Linked DNA regions of Homo sapiens: region 2 is linked to region 1. A link means that fine-mapping ties the variant in region 1 to the expression of a gene that starts in the linked region. Tissue or cell type: cerebellum. Region 1 holds a variant in brackets; the other region holds the start of a gene. All regions are shown on one strand. Distances are between the middles of the regions.

The links. PIP is the estimated chance that this variant, and not a neighbour inherited with it, causes the effect.
Region 2: YWHAH-AS1 starts here. The variant in region 1 is fine-mapped to the expression of YWHAH-AS1 in cerebellum (GTEx, PIP 0.92).

The regions. Positions count from the first base shown.
Region 1 is chr22:31,752,509-31,760,591 of GRCh38, forward strand. DEPDC5 (DEP domain containing 5, GATOR1 subcomplex subunit) reads left to right here and starts at 1,511. Exons shown (of 43, transcript NM_001242896.3): 1 at 1,511-1,656; 2 at 2,354-2,471; 3 at 6,038-6,125. The coding sequence starts at 2,414. It also overlaps the pseudogene RN7SL20P. RefSeq lists a silencer at 1,276-1,585. The variant G/A (reference allele first, on the strand shown) is at 3,397.
Region 2 is chr22:31,941,444-31,949,546 of GRCh38, forward strand. YWHAH-AS1 (YWHAH antisense RNA 1) reads right to left here and starts at 3,923. Exons shown (of 3, transcript NR_171018.1): 1 at 3,790-3,923. It overlaps YWHAH (tyrosine 3-monooxygenase/tryptophan 5-monooxygenase activation protein eta), which reads left to right and starts at 3,092. Exons shown (of 2, transcript NM_003405.4): 1 at 3,092-3,377. The coding sequence starts at 3,291. LOC124900477 (a long non-coding RNA gene) reads left to right here and starts at 3,391. Exons shown (of 3, transcript XR_007068065.1): 1 at 3,391-3,792; 2 at 4,057-4,235; 3 at 6,021-7,709. RefSeq lists enhancers at 1,554-2,411, 2,412-3,269, 4,013-4,062 and silencers at 2,533-2,682, 2,963-3,052, 3,063-3,282, 3,353-3,692.

The DNA of each region.
Region 1 (8,083 bases):
GGGCCACATGGCAAAACCCCGTCTCTACAAAAAATACAAAAATTAGCTGAGCATGCACCTGTAATCCCAGCTACTAGGAGGCTGAGGTGGGAGGATCGCATGAGCCAGGCAGGCAGAGATGGCAGTGAGACGGGATCATGCCACTGCACTCCAGCCTGGGTGAGGGTGACCTCATCTCAAAACAAAAACAAAAAAACAAACAAACAAAAAAATTGCAATTACTTAACACTTGCATTATTTACCTAACTTCTCCTGAGTCCCAACATAAAGGCATCCATGCTTAAGAACGTTGCTTGTCCTGTCCCAGGGTCCCCTTGGTCCACTGCAGAATCTTTCACTACAGTGTAACATGTTTTTTCTTTCAACATTTTTAAGTTTTCCAAATCCGTAAGAAATGGGCACTGTTAGTATTAAAGATATAAAGAAATTTAAGACAAGTGCTGTGTCGTTTAGATTTAGCAGTCAGTGTGATTAGAAGCAGCAGAGGAGAGGCGTGACCCAAGACACCGATTCTAGTTATAAGGTCTCTCTGGCTTCAAGAGGGGAAGCAGGGAGTCCCTATCGAGTTGCTGCCGCTCAGGTCAGAAACGGTGGACTGGACTAGGGGGCGGGGGTATCAGTGGCAGCAGGCGGAGCTGGCAATTGTCAGGAGTCCTTGGCCAGAGCCTGACCCAGCCCACCCAGCTCTCTGGTTTTCTGCTTGGAGAGAAAGATATCCTGACAGACGCGAGTTTAGGCAGTGCCCTGGGTATGACCAAAGGATGTTGGTTAAAGGCCCCGTTCTGGGAACGGGTCAGGATTCGTCCTTGCTTCCTTCTGAAGGGTTTTGTGTCCTCAGGCTGTTTCCTGGTTTGTGAAATAGGATAGTATCTGCCTCCTGCATCCATCAGGTAATAGGGATGCAATGATTACATAAGGACTATGAAGCCACGGCAGCCATTCTTATTAATAACCTGAGGGGCGCAGAACGTCGTTTAGAGTTTGCAAGGGTTTGAAAAGCCCCCCGTAAGTGGACACTTCCCAGCAGAGGCCATCACCCTAACTCTCGCGTGCTCAGCCCCTTGCATTTTACAGAAGTCCTCCCAGAAACTCTCGTTGGCGCCTCTTAGCTGCCCAATGAGGCCACATGAGTCATTAACCTCGTTCATATAACAGAAAACGGAGCTCTGACGGATCTCGTTTCCCCTGTGGGGAGATCACTGAGTCGGAAACGAAGCTCTGTGGCCATGGATCTACTTCGGATAGACTAGGAGGAAATGGATTTCCTCCGTGGGGCGGGAGGCTCTAGTGCTCGAGGGCAGGAAACGCCAGGAGGTGGCCCAAGGAAGAGGCCGCACACGACGCCCCGCCCCCGGCTCGAGCCCCGGATGAGGAAGTGGTGCGGCCACCGAGACGAGACGGAGGCCCGGCGAGAGCGGCGCGGGGGCGCGAGGGCGGGAAGGAGGCGGGGCCCCGGGGCGGAGCCACCGGAGCGGCGCGGGTTCTCAGGTGAGCGCTACACGGTCGGGGCGGGCCTAGTAGGCGCTTCAGGCTTAGGGGCGGAACAGCGCGGGCCGCGCGGGCGTAGGCGGGGTATCTGGAGGAGGCGCAGGGAACCTGGAGAGGGTCCAGCCCTCAGTGCCCCGGCCAGAGGCGGGAAGGGGCTCTAGAGCTTCGGTGAGTGGAGCTGCCCGCCCCGGACTGGGGATTGGGGGGGCTTGAGATAGGGGACCTTGGCCCAGGTTCGAGTTCCAGGCTCCATCCCCATTCCGCTGTGTGACCTTGGACAAGTCTCTCTCCCTCTCTGAGCCTCAACGGCCTCAGCTGTGAAACGGAGTCAGGGAAGGTCTGCTGAGAGTTCGCACAGACCGAGGTTTGGGGAAGGAACTTCTGCCTTCCTCCTCTTTGTGGTTGCCTTGCTCAGGACATTGGCAGCAAAACGAGAATGGTGGGAGTGTCTCTTAAGTCTCGAGTGACCTTGAGCAAGTCCCTTGCCCGGAGTCACACTTTCATCATCTACAAAATGAGTGGGCTAACCTCTTTTAAGATCTCTTTACTATTTGGGTGTTATTGGTGTAGATGGAGACAAGGTGATGAGCACCCATTCAGCGCAATGCTTCCCCTATGGGGGTGTGATAGAATATCTTCTCCTAGGTTTGACTAGCCCCTGGCCCGAATTCCCCTTAGTTCCTGGATTCTGTGGTTCTATTTGTTCTCCATCGCTCCTTGTAACTGGAGGAGTGACTTCTTCCGAGAGTCACTTGGCACCACTTCACAGCAGAGGAACACCAGTATCTTCACTGGCCTAAAATCAAAGAGTGGTTGCAAGGAAAAATCTGACATTCCAACCTTTTCGTTTGTATTTCTGTGGCAGGGAGGCAAGATGACTTCTCTGCCCCAAGCTTGGAACAGCTAAAGGGAAAAACAGTGCAAGATGAGAACAACAAAGGTCTACAAACTCGTCATCCACAAGAAGGGCTTTGGGGGCAGTGGTCAGTATCGATTGGTCTTTAGAGGTTTTGTAAGTTGGCTGAGGTTCTGGTGTGTGCAATACCTAGAAATTACACACTGACTCGTGTGACAATTGAGGCTAAACAGGCGACTAAACAGACTAAAGCAGCAACTGTCATACAGTAACAATAGGAGGATGGCAGGACCCTTCTAATGCATTTGCATTCAGACTTTTAAGGAACATTGTGAATGCTGCCGGTTTACTACCCTTCATTTGTTGAATTGCATTATTAATTACAAATCTTCCGTGTATGTTCCATAAAATTCCAGCCTGCACTGGTTTGGCAGATAAGAGAAACTAAAATCGTTTATCAGTTTTTACATTGAGTGAGAGAGAAGTGGCATAGATGTGCATAGAGCAGGTATGATCAAAGCATGAACCTTTGCCTGGCTTGTAGGCATGGGAAGAAGGAGCAGGATACAGCATGTTATTCTGCACTGAGCTATAGTCTGAGTATCTACTCTGCTTCTAATTTTCCTGGTGACCTTGGGCAAGCTCCTAGTGTACCTTATCTGAAAGTTGAAGGGCTTTAGAATAGTTTCTCTTAACATCTATTTTTTTTCCTTTCTTTTCTTTTCTTTTTTTTTTTGGGACACGGTCCCCCATGTTGCCCAGGCTAGTCTGGAACTCTAGAGCTCAAAAGATCCTTCCACCTCAACCTCAACCTCCCTAATAGTTGGGATTACAGGCGTGAGCCACTGTACCCAGCTCTCCTTAGTGCCTTGAATCCATAAATCTGAAGAATAAAAGGGCACTTAGTATAATTTTTTTTTCTTTTGTAAGGGAATAATTTTCCATTCTGTCTTAACAGCATTATTTACTTCAGAAATTGGAGTTAACAATATAATGAATCTTTTTATTTTATTTTATTATTTATTGGCATTTTTTTTTTGAGACAGAGTCTC[G/A]CTCTGTCACCAGGCTGGAGTGCAGTGGCGTGATCTCAGCTCACTGCAACCTCCACCTCCCAGGTTCAAGCAATTCTTCTGCCTCAGCCTCCCGAGTAGCTGGGACTACAGGTGCATGCCGCCACACCTGGCTATTTTTTTTTTTTTTTTTTTGTATTTTAGTAGAGAGGGTTTCACCATGTTTCCCAGGCTGGTCTCGAACTCCTGAGCTCAGGCAATCCGCCCACCTTAGCCTCCCAAAGTGCTAGGATTACAGGCAAGAGCCACCGCGCTGGCATGAGTCTTTTTAACATTGTATTTTAGGGTGTATTTACTTCTACATTATGTAGGTATAAGCCTCCAGAGGGGAAGGACTGCCAAAAAGGGAAAACAATAGTTTCTCTATCATAGAGCATTGTGAGGCTTAAGTAAAGTGATACATGTAATGCATTTAGCAGAGTGTTAGACTCTGTGCTCAATAAATGTAGCCATTGTAATTACCAGGCTACAGGCATTGCTATATTTAAACTACAATTTCTGCTAAAATGCACAGTCTATTGTTATTACTTTGATGCTGTTGATGTTGCCTAAATATTTGTGGAGTGGAATAAAGCAAATAACTTTTGGCAGAGAAAAGAATACAAGGATACAGTATATACAACGTATACAAATACATGTTTTTATGTATAAAATACAAAGGTAGTTAGATGCTGTATCCAGTCTTCTGCAAGACTATAGGTCAAAATACAACTAACAGCTGGACATGGTAGCTCATGACTGTAATCCTGGCATTTTGGAAGGTCAAGGTGGGCAGATCACATGAGGTCAGGAGTTCAGGACCAGCCTGGCCAACATAGTGAAACCCCATCTCTACTAAAAATACAAAAATTAGCCAGGTGTGGTGGTGCGTGCCTGTAATCTCAGCTACTAGGGAGGCTGAGGCACGAGAATTGCTTGAACCCAGGAGGCAGAGGTTGCAGTGAGCCGAGATCATGCCACTACACTCCAGCCTGGGCAATAGAGCAAGACCCTGTCTTTAAAAAAATAAAAAATAATAAAAAAAAAAGAAACAACCAACAGATATTTATTAGGTGTATACCTGTGCCAGACGTAATGATTATGAATGCCACAAGGTTCTTTGTCCCTAAAGAGTTTTCAGTTTGGTAAGATAGACATGCAAAAAGGAAATGATAAAACCAAGCAGAAGGGGATATGTTCTCAGGGACCTTAATTCAGACTATGTAAATTAGGGAGGAAGCTCCAAAGAGCATTTGTCGTGAAACTGTCAGTGGAAACATAGCAAATAAAATTAGGGATTGCTGGGTGCAGTGGTGTATGCCTGTAGTCACAGCTACTCAAGAGGCTGGGACAGGAGGATCACTTGGGCCCAGGAGTTCCAGACTATAGTACATTATGCTGATTGGGTGTCTGCACTAAGTTCTGCATCAATATAGTGACCTCCCAGGAGTGGGGGACCACCAGCTTGCCTTAGGAAGTGTGAACCACCTCAGGTTGGGAACAGAGCAGGTCAAAACTCCTGTGCTGATCAGCAGTGGGATTGTCCCTGTAAATAGCCACTGTACGCCAGCCTAGGCAACAGCAAGACCTTATCTCTAAAAGAAAACAAAAAAATTTGGGAGTAAGCCAATGTTTCATTTTACTAGGCTAAATTTTTGTTGGGTCTGATTATATTTGAAATCTAGATAAACTTAATTGTCATGATATTAGCATAATTAAAGGTGATGTCTTTCCTTGCAAATTAAAACAGCAAAACAGTCATTCTGTCTTTATGCTTCTGAGTTTGCAATATTTGATAGAGTTCTCCCCATCCCTAGTAGAGGGGCAGGGGTAGATAAACATGAAACCACATCCCTCTTATTTTATTTATTTATTTTTTTGAGATGCAGTCTCTTTCTGTCACTCAGGCTGGAGTGCAGTGGTGTGATTTCGGCTCACTGTAACCTCTGCCTCCCGGGTTCAAGTGATTCTCCTGCCTCAGGCTCCCAAGTAGCTGGGATTACAGGCTCCCACCACCACACCTGGCTAATTTTTGTATTTTTAGTAGAGACGGGGTTTCGCCATGTTCGCCAGGCTGGTCTTGAACTCCTGACCTCAGGTGATCTGTCCATCTCGGCCTCTCAAAGTATTGGGATTACAGGCATGAGCCACTGCTCCTGGACTCTCTGAGGTTATTTTCTTACTCCTGTTAGATCTAAAGATTTATTGTGACGGTCACATTAAGACACTGTTTGGGAAATTCTTTGAACATTGAATAACTGTAACGAATTGTGCTGTATCTGTGGGAACCAGCCTGTTTTGTTCCTGTTATATGCCAGATACACAATATTTGAGGGGGTAAAAGGCTGTCCAGAAGCCTAATTCCCAGATACTAAGGGCTGCTCTGCCCCTGGAAGCAGTGCGGTAGTAGAAAGGGCACAGGGTATGGAGACAAAGGTACCTGAGCGCCATCCCACTCTGCTGCTGTGTAGCTTGGTGTTCCTGTGTGAATCCATTAGTCATTGTAAGCCTCGTTTCAAAATAGAACCTCATCTGTCAATGGGGTGGCAATACCATCCTGATGGGGTTGTGAGGAACCAGTATGAGAACATACAGTGTACCTAATGAGTGTTTTTCTACTTGAAGTGGCTGAATTGTCTTTCAGATGATGAGCTAGTTGTGAACCCCAAAGTGTTCCCTCACATCAAGCTTGGAGACATTGTAGAGATTGCACACCCCAACGATGAATACAGGTGAGTGTCTCATAGGATCCATGGAACTGGGCAATTCACTGTTTCCAAATGATGTCCAAGGCAGATAGCTCTCTTTGCCTTTCAAAATGCTCATGCTGTGATGGCTCAATCCTGTAATTCCAGCACTTTGGGAGGCTGAGGTGGGTAGGTCATTTGAGCCCGGGAGTTCGAGACCAGCCTGGGCAACATAGAGGGACCCTGTCTTAAAAAAAAATGATCATGCCTTCTAGGATTTGATCAACAAATAATTTTTCAAAAGTGGTCCATTCCTTCGTTTTTTTTTTTTTGAGATGGAGTCTAGCTCTGTCACCCAGGCTAGAGTGCAGTTGTGTAATCTCAGCTCACTGCAACCTCTGCCTCCCAGCCCCAAGTGATTGTCCTGCCTCAGCCTCCTGAGTAGCTGAGATTACAGGCTCAGCCTCCCGAGTAGCTGAGATTACAGGCATGCGCCATCACGCCCAGCTAATTTTGCATTTTTGGTAGAGACAGGGTTTCACCATGTTGCCCAGGCTGGTCTTGAACTCCTGACCTCAGGTAATCCACTGGCCTTGGCCTCCCAATGTGCTGGGATTACAGGTATGAGGCACCGCACCTGGCCTAATTTTTGTGTTTTTTAGTAGAGATGGGGTTTCACCATATTGTCCAGGCTTGTCTCAAGTCATCCATCCTGCTAGGCCTCCCAAAGTGCTGAGATTACAGGCATGAGCCACCATACCGAGCCGTTTTTTTTGTTTTTTTTGTTTTTTTTTGTTTTTTTTGAGATGAAATCTCACTCTGTCACCCAGGCTGAAGTGCAGTGGTGGGATCTTGGCTCACTGCAATCTCTGTCTTCCGGGTTCAAGCCATTCTCCTGCCTCAGCCTCCTGAGTAGCTGGGATTACAGGCGCGTGCCACCATGCTTGGCTAATTTTTGTATTTTTAGTAGAGACGGGGTTTCACCATGTTGGTCAGGCTGGTTTCGAACTCCTGACCTCGTGATCCGCCTGCCTTGGCCTCTTAAAGTGCTAGGATTACAGGCATGAGCTACCTTGCCGCGCCCAGCCTTTTTTTTTTTTTTTTTTTTTTAAGAGACAGAGTCTCGCTCTGTCACCCAGGCTGGAGTGCAGTGGTGCCACCTCGGCTCACTGCAACCTCTGCCTCCTGGGTTCAAGTGACTCTTCTGCCTCAGCCTGTCGAGTAGCTGGAACTACAGGTGTGGGCCACCACACCTGGCTAATTTTTGTATTTTTAATAGAGACAGGGTTTCGTCATGTTGGCCAGGCTGGTCTCGAACTCCTGACCTCAGGTGATCCACCTGCCTTGGCCTCCCAAAGTGTTGGGATTATAGGCATGAGCCACCGAGCCCAGCCTCTTTCTGGTTTTAAAGCTGAGATGACAACTGAAAGGTTCTGTAGCATTTGTCCATTTCCTTTAGTGCGTATGGAGTTTCTTTGTTTCTTTTTTTTTTTTTGTGAGACGGAGTCTTGCTCTGTCGCCCAGGCTGGAGTGCAGTGGCACAATCTTGGCTCACTGCAAGCTCCACCTCCCGGGTTCACGCCATTCTCCTGCCTCAGCCTCCCAAGTAGCTGGGACTACAGGCGCCCACCACTATGCCCGGCTAATTTTTTTGTATTTTTAGGAGAGACGGGGTTTCACTGTGTTAGCCAGGATGGTCTCGATCTCCTGACCTCATGATCCGCCCGTCTCGGCCTCCCAAAGTGCTGGGATTACAGGCATGAGCCACCACACCCGGCCTAATTTTTTCTATTTTTTAGTAGAGAAGGGGTTTCACCGTGTTAGCCAGGATGGTCTCGATCTCCTGACCTCGTGGTCCACCTGCCTCGGCCTCCCAAAGTGCTGGGATTACAGGCGTGAGCCACCGCACCTGGCCGAGTTTCTTTGTTTCTGAGGGAGCTTTCTCCCGTTGTTGTGCTGTAAGTCACAGAATGGCCAGAGTGACCTATTTGCCTTTTGTCGGG
Region 2 (8,103 bases), 190 kb after region 1:
CAGCACACTGGGAGGCCGAGGCAGGAGGTACATTTGAGGCCAGGAGTTCAAGACCAGCCTGGCCAACCTGGTGAAATCTCTATTAAAAATACACACAAAAAAATTAGCTGGGCTTGGTGGTGCATGCCTGCAGTCCTAGCTACTCGGGAGGCTGAGGCAGGAGAATAGCTTGAACCTGGGAGGCGGAGATTGCAGTGAGCCAAGATTGTGCCACTGCACTCCAGTCTGGGCAACAGAGCGAGACTCCATCTCTTAGAGAAAAAAACAAACCAAAAAAAAGACTAAAAAATCCATTTAACAGATGAGGCACAAGAGTTTAAATAATTTTCTCTGAAAAAATTAGCTGGGTGCGGTGACGTGCGCCTTGTAGCCCCAGCTACTTGGGAGGCTGAGGCAGGAGGATCGCTTGAACCTGGGAGGCGGAGGTTGCAGTGAGCTAAGAGAGCACTATTGCACTCCAGCCTGGGTGAATGGGTGAGACTCTATCTCAAAACAAAACAAAAGCCAACAAACAAAAAAACAGGAAAGGAAATCGGACCAGCCTTACAGGGGTATCTTGAGGGAAAAAAAAATGCACGTTTCTGCAAAGCACCTTGCCTGGTACTAGGAACATGGTAGATGGTTCCTTAGAGTGCATGAGGATGGGGTCACCAAGGATAGGGCAGTGTGTGAAGAGGGCTCGGGACAAAGCCCTGAGGAACCCTAGTATTTTGGGGTAGGCTAGAAGACAAGCCCATACAGCAAATAGAAGAGCAATGGCCGGAGCAGCAGAAGGGAAGCTGGGAGAGTCGGTCAAGGAAGGGTGAGCAGTCGTGCCCAGTCCAGCCAAGAGGGCCAGGGAGGTGGGCACTATGAAACCTCCTTGGCTTTGACAACAAGGAGGGCTCTGATGGCCACGGTGGAGGAGTAGGGACAGGGTGAGAGCACACTGAGCTGATGGGTGGGTAGGAGGTGAGGAAGAGGAGATGAGGAAGTTTGGTGAGAAGAAAAGCTTCATGGGAGAACCAGAGTGTCCTTTACACATGTCAGAAATCAATTATTTAGAATGCTCCAGCTCTACCTAATTTTCACTGTTTTGAAATCAATCTTAGTCCAACCTCATCAGAAAAGCTGGAAGGGCTCTAAGCCCTCTAAGAGCTAGAAGGAACCGAGGAGGTCCCCCCATCCAGGGCTGGCCCTCCTCCCATCTCTCACTGGGACCCCATCCTTATGGGGGGTGGAGTGGATGATTCATTACTATCTAGCATGCTCTTTAAATATATTCACTAGGGGAAAGATTAGCCTGGTTTGTTAACCTCGATTCCAACAGCAAAAGTGACTCTTCAAAGCATGGTGAAGCCTGGGGTAGTGGCCTCCTCCTAGACCCACATTCAAATCCTGTTTCATGGGCCCCCAGAAGTGTGATCGTTTCAGCATCATAGCAGGAAGAGGAAGGCCTGGGAGGCAGGAAACCTGGTATGGAGACCCCAGCTCTGCTCACTCGCTGTGCAAACTAGGGCCAGCCCCTCCTTTCCCTCAGACCTCAGTTTCCCGTTATTCAGGATAAGGGGTTAGACAGGGGTGATTCTAAGGGTCCTGCCAGCTCTGACATTTCAGCATGTGGATATCTATTCTAAAGTCCTTGAAACAGTTAAGTCCAATTCTCCAGATGGAAAACAGGTCCAGAAAAGGCCTGGTCTCCAGTTCCCTCCCTTCTCCCTTCGAACATGTCTTACTCTCTAGAGCAAGATTCCAGGCCTGAAATATGGCTTCCCAATTACCTAAGGATGAAGCCTCAAATCTTTGGCCTGGCATTTAAAAGACTCCGTAATCTTGTTTTACCCAACCTCACTTCCCATTCTTAGGCCTCTCTTCTCACCATCTCCCAGGTCACTGCCAAGCCTTTGCCAATGCTGTACCCCAGGCCTTAATCTTTTTCCTGACTCTCCTTCAAGATCCAGCTTATCCCTGTGGGCTGAGCATGCAGTAGATGCTCAATAAAATTCTCAGCGAGCCCAAGGCCCCCTCTCCTGCACTGCCCTTGGCGTGTTGAAATCAAGTGGGGGCCTTGTTTTAATCATCATTTTCCTAGCTTGTCGGGCAGCCCAGTCCAGGGCCTGGCACAAGGGACCCTCAGCATCCAATACCAGCCAGGATTGGGAGGGGCTCAGTGACCAGCCAGTTGGGCCACCCCAGCTCTTTGCCACAAGAGAAAGTTCAGCCTGGGTTTGGACTCAGATCCTGGCCCCACCACTTACAGGCTGCGTAACCCTGAGCAAGTCACTAACCTCGCTTTTCCTCAGGTTCCACGTTTTAAATATGGGGAGACCAGCTGTGCCCACTGTGGGCTGGGTAGTGAGGATTAAAGAGGAGGATGCTTGTACGGGACTAGCACTGGGCTGGCTCCTAATGTGTCCTGAATATTACTTGTCCCGCCCTGGCCACCCAGTCCCCTCCTCTGGTGGAAGGCACAGCCTGCCCAAGGCTACGTCTCAGGTTGGGTTCGATTGTGTGTGTCTGTGTAGCGGGGCTGTCCCCGAGGGTCGGACTCGATCCTGCCCGGACCAGTACAAGGTGTGGCCCAGCAGAACGCATGGACAGGCAGGGCTCGGGGCGGGCGGGACGGCTGGGGCGGGGCTGGGCGGACCCGCCCCTCGGGGCACGCGGTCTCCCGGCTTCTCCGCCAGTATGTTTGCTTGCTTTTGGGGCCCTTCTCAAGCCAGATCTCTAACGTGGATGGAGTGGCGCGTTTCAGGGTGGGGCTATGACAATGCACTGCCTGTGCAGCCGCCATCACCGCGCCCCCTCCACCGGCTCCGCAGTCTCCTGCCCGGCTTTCCCTTCTCCACCTCCATCTCTGCGGCGGTAAAATGCAGCACTCGCAGAGCGCCTGCGCGGCTTTCAGGCCGGGCGGCGGCGGCGGCGGTGGCTATTTATAGTAGGTGACGTCACCTTGAAATAGACCGTTAGGGCCGGCCCGCCCTTCCCCCCTCCCACTCCCGCCGCTCCCCGCCGCCCGGCCTGGCCACTCTCACTGCGCAGGCGTCGTCCCGTCCTCCCATCCCCCAGCGCGGCCGCGTCTCCTCCCTCGGCGTTGTCCGCGGCGCGAGCCACAGCGCGCGGGGCGAGCCAGCGAGAGGGCGCGAGCGGCGGCGCTGCCTGCAGCCTGCAGCCTGCAGCCTCCGGCCGGCCGGCGAGCCAGTGCGCGTGCGCGGCGGCGGCCTCCGCAGCGACCGGGGAGCGGACTGACCGGCGGGAGGGCTAGCGAGCCAGCGGTGTGAGGCGCGAGGCGAGGCCGAGCCGCGAGCGACATGGGGGACCGGGAGCAGCTGCTGCAGCGGGCGCGGCTGGCCGAGCAGGCGGAGCGCTACGACGACATGGCCTCCGCTATGAAGGCGGTGAGCGCGCCGGGAGCCCGGGCGGCTGGCCGGGGGGGGCCTGGCGTTGGGGAGGGACGGGGATGGCCGCGGGCGCGTTCCCCTCCCGGCCATGGGCGACCCGGCGACCCGGCTGGGCGTGGCCGCCCGCCCGCCCTTAGCCCGCGCTTCCCGCTCCCGCTGGGCGCCCCGCCACTTCCTGAGGCTGGGCCCAGGGTGGGGGATCCGGGAGGGTGCAGTTCGGGATCGCGAAGGCAGCCCCGGAAGGGGGGCGGGCCGGTCGGGGTCGCCACATCTTAGTTCGGAACCCGGCCGGGGGCAGAGGGTGCCCTAGGGGACGCGAAGGAGCCGCATTTCTCCTAGAGCGTTTCACCGGACCCGGGGGCTCCCCCTCTCGTCTTCCTCCGTTCCCCAACTTGGAATAAAGAATCACCTAGTAAGTGGCGCCCTGTCTCAGCTGGTTTTCTCTGCCACGACCTGAAGTCTGCAATTCCGATCTGTTTTGCTCTGCTCGTTCGAATTGTTCTGGTTCCATCTTCCCACGCCTGGGGGTCTGGCTTTGTGTGCGAAGACCCCTTTCCTGCAGTCTAGGCGTGGACGGGGGCGGGAGAGTGGGCGGAGGGTGTGGGGCCCCACTCCACAGCCCCAGGTTTGCTGCTGCGCTGTCTGCTTGGAGATTAAAATGAAACGTGACTTCTAGGTGAGACGAATCTGTGTGTCTTTGCATTCCTGAGACCCTCATAAATCGATTCTGCAGCTTCTCCGGTGGATGAGTCGTGCCCAGCCACACCCTAGCAAAATACCGTGGGTCACACACCACCTGCATTTCTGAGTTCCGGTTACCATCTCACTCTCTCTCCACGTTATTTTACGTTTTCTGTAAATGAATATTTCCTCTCCCTGCGTCAAGGTCACACAGTGGTAGAACAACTGCGACCACCAACCTATGTTCAGTGTACAACCTCCTGAGACCTGGGAGGATCCCCTTGAACTCCGCCTTAGACCTATACATTCAGAAATTCGGGCGGTGAGACTCAGACATCTGCATTGTAACCAGCTCTCACAGGCGATTTTTAGCTGGCTTAAGTCTGAGAATTACTGCCCATGATTATAGTAAATGTATCCTTTGCTGGCCTTTTGGAGGGAGTTCCGAAAAAAAACTGCCAATACAAAGGCTCCCTAAAATCTTAAGTCATTTGGAAAGCTCATTTGAAGGCTTTTGATGTTAATATCAGATGAAATATGTAGTTGGGGCCAATATTTAGGATTGTTCAGGTAAGAAAGGTGCTTGAAGAGTTGCCTTTCCTCTGGTGTCCTTGTTACACACATAACTGGGTGTGTTTGGAAACCAGCAACACCGTTGCCCGTATGTTGATTTGTTGGTGATCTTGACTTGAGCACTATTAGCATGCTGTTGTGGTGAGGCAGGTTTTCTTCCAGACCGGGGGACGGTCTAGGTCTGGAGGCTGAACTTTATGTAATTCAGGGGGTCCTTTAAAAGAAAATCTAAAATATAGTTTTGCATATTTTACAAAAATGGGACTGACGAATGCATTTCCTTGGAAGGGACCCTGAACCTTAATTTTCTGTGGGATAAAGCTGCCTCTGTCCACAGCAGGTCACACTTAAGCCCCTCCTCCCCAGTAACTGAGTGGTGCTGGGATTATGCAGGCTGAGGCCTCTCCACACATTTTCATGAAGTGGTTGCTCACCCTCTAAGTGAGACGTAAAGACTGCAGTGTTCGGAGCCCTTTGGGAAATAAATGTGGTGAAAAGAAAGGAGGGACGAGGTTTAAAGGAAGGGGAAATGGAGGTTAAGGAAAAATGGCTAGAAGGTGTGTTCTGGAACAATCAGAAACCTGAGGCAACTTGAAATGGGGGAAAAAGGCAAGAATGGAGAGATGTTACCAGAACGAAATCTAGTTTGAGCAGAGAAAAAGACTGGCTTTCTAGTAGGCTTGTAAAATGCTTTCCTGCAGCAAGCTACTTGTGTCCATAGATCTTCTCTGGAGGGTTAAGGTAGCCTTTTGTAAACCAAAGGAATCTATAATATCTATATTTGAAATAATTAATGAGTTGGAAAAGCCACCCAGCGTAGAAGAGTCAATCCAAGCTTTAATTCTGCCATCTCAGAATGGTGATAAACCATTTCTCCCCCATCATCTAAATGGAATATATTGTGCTTATAGGTATTTTCTTTAAAAGAAAAAAAAGAATATATTGGAAGGGACTGGCAGGGGTCACTTTCCCTGCTAACTTGGTGTTTGTAGATTAAATTCTTAATGTTACTGGGATGACTCAGTCTCTATGTTATTAATCTCATCAGCCTTAACTAAGGCTTTTGGAAAGGGTGTAAGTTTCAGTAACCCTCTGGGTTTACCTGGGCTTTCTTCAGGGCTGGGGAAGGGCAGGTAAGTAGCCTGCTGTAGGGAGGATGGAGCAGGACACATGTGTTAAGGATATATTCTGATGCCACCAGTCTGTAACCTTGAAACTTACATCTTGGCTTTAGGTCCTCTGAAGTATAAAACTAGTGATGTTGCTGTTATTAACAAGTCAGTTTTGCCTTCAGTCTTCTAACTTGTTTTCTGTTTCCTTCATAATTAAAATGCTCACTTGATAATACTGCCTTCCTGTAATGATTGATGTTCCTCATTCTACCAGCGTCACCTGGAGGACAGTGTTGGTAAGCTTGAAGAAAAATCGTGCATACTGGAAACAATGGTCTTGCCTCAAACCTGTTGAGAACTTCTCTTCCCTGCTTCTCTCCATAATTTGAAGAAGCAAGAAATGTTTCTGAAGTGAAGCATAAAGGAGTATCTTCAAGCTCTATCTCATACCTACCAGCTTGCATAGAGTATAATAGTGGGAAGAAATATTGTGAAAGATTCTAGAACCTAAGTCCTTTCTAGGCTAGGCAATTCTAGGCTACACAATTCGTAGTCTCTGTAAATACCATTTGATAACTGAAATAAACCTATAAAGTGGGATTAAATGTTAGTCCAGAAGACTAAGTGATTTAAGGAAAGAGGGAAAATAACCAGATAGATTTCTGGTGGATATTCATAGACAGACATAATTTCATCATGTATTATGGCCCTAAGTCATCTATTTTATATTAAAACATAGATGGTAACTGTAAAGTTATCAAATGTAAAAATTACTGGGCTAGCATTGTGTTTTAACACTGATACACCAGTTGATTACAGTGTTGACAGAAAACGGGCAGAAACACGTTTAAAGTACCTGCAGAATATATATATAGAAATCTTTTTTTTTTAATCAGTGTTGACCAGGTTGGCCTCGAACGTGTAGCCTCACCTCCCCGAGTGCCAGGGCAACCGGCCTGAGCCACAGCGGCTCCCTAGAAATCTTAAGTGCAGGAAACAAAACTACAGTTTAAGGAAACAGGAGTCGGAGAGGAGGGGCATTTGGCCCAACCACTGGCAAAAGGCTGTTGTTGCAACAACTGTGAGATTCTGGGAAGTGGGGAAATGAGCAGGTGCTGTGTAAAAGTGCACAGCTGACTGCCCCAGGTGAGACAGATCAGTGTCACAGAGAGTAGGAGGATTTTGAGGTGTGATTAGTATTTTTTTTTTTTTTCTTAAAGAGATGGTCTCGTTCTGGAACCCAGGCTGGAGTGCAGTCGTGGCACGATCATAATTCACTGTAGCCTTGAGCTCCTGGGCTCAAGTGAACCTCCTGAGCAGCTGGGACTACAGATGCATGCCACCGTGCCCAGCTAATTATTAAATTGTATAGACAGGATCTCTATATGGTACCCAAGTTGGTCTCAAACTCCTGGCCTCAAGCAGTCCTCCTGCCTCAGCCTATTAAAGTGCTGGGATTACAGGAGTGAGCTACCACACCCAACCAGTAGGAAATCTTAAAGCCACATTGATACTACAGTTTGAAATATGTAAAAACTAGGGAGCTATGTTTCCCACTAACTGGGCATTTAAAATGTAATCGTCTTTGAGGAAGGAAGAAGGCTCTGGATTATTCTTGTAATAGTTTGAATTTAAAAGGTCCTTTCAGGTGGGCAAACAGCTTACGTGGCTTTCTTGCACTGAAATAGAAACTGTAGTCCCCATGTGGGTTTGGGTCCCTGAATTATCCCCAGAAGAACTTCCACAGTCCGGAACTGACTCCCTTAAAGAAACCAAAAATGTATTTTCTTTGGTGGGGATTTTCTTTAGTTGGTCTTTGTCTGGGATTTTATATCAGTGACAGACTGTAGCGTCACACTTTTCCAGAAATACGGTTTCGGAGAGGGTACCCCTAACGTTTTATGTGTGTGTGTGTTACATTTAGCAAGTTTATATAACATATTTTACTTTTTTTTTTTTTTTTTTTTTTGAGACAGTTTCGCTCTTGTTGCCCAGGCTGGAGTACAATGGAGCAATCTCGGCTCTCTGCAACCTCTGCCTCCCGGGTTCAAGCAATTCTCCTGCCTCAGCCTCCCAAGTAGCTGGGATTACAGGCATGCACCACCATGCCATGCCCGCCTAATTTTGTATTTTTAGTAGAGATGGGGTTTCTCCATGTTGGTCAGGCTGGTCTTGAACACCCGACCTCAGGTTATCCACCTGCCTCGGCCTCCCAAAGTACTGGGATTACAGGCGTGAGCCACTGCGCTTGGTTAGAACTTATTTAACTTTTTAGGCACTTGGTAAACGGTAGCTGTTAGTCCATGTGTACTTTTTTTTTTGGTGGGGGGGGGAGTCATGCTCTGTCACCCAGGCTG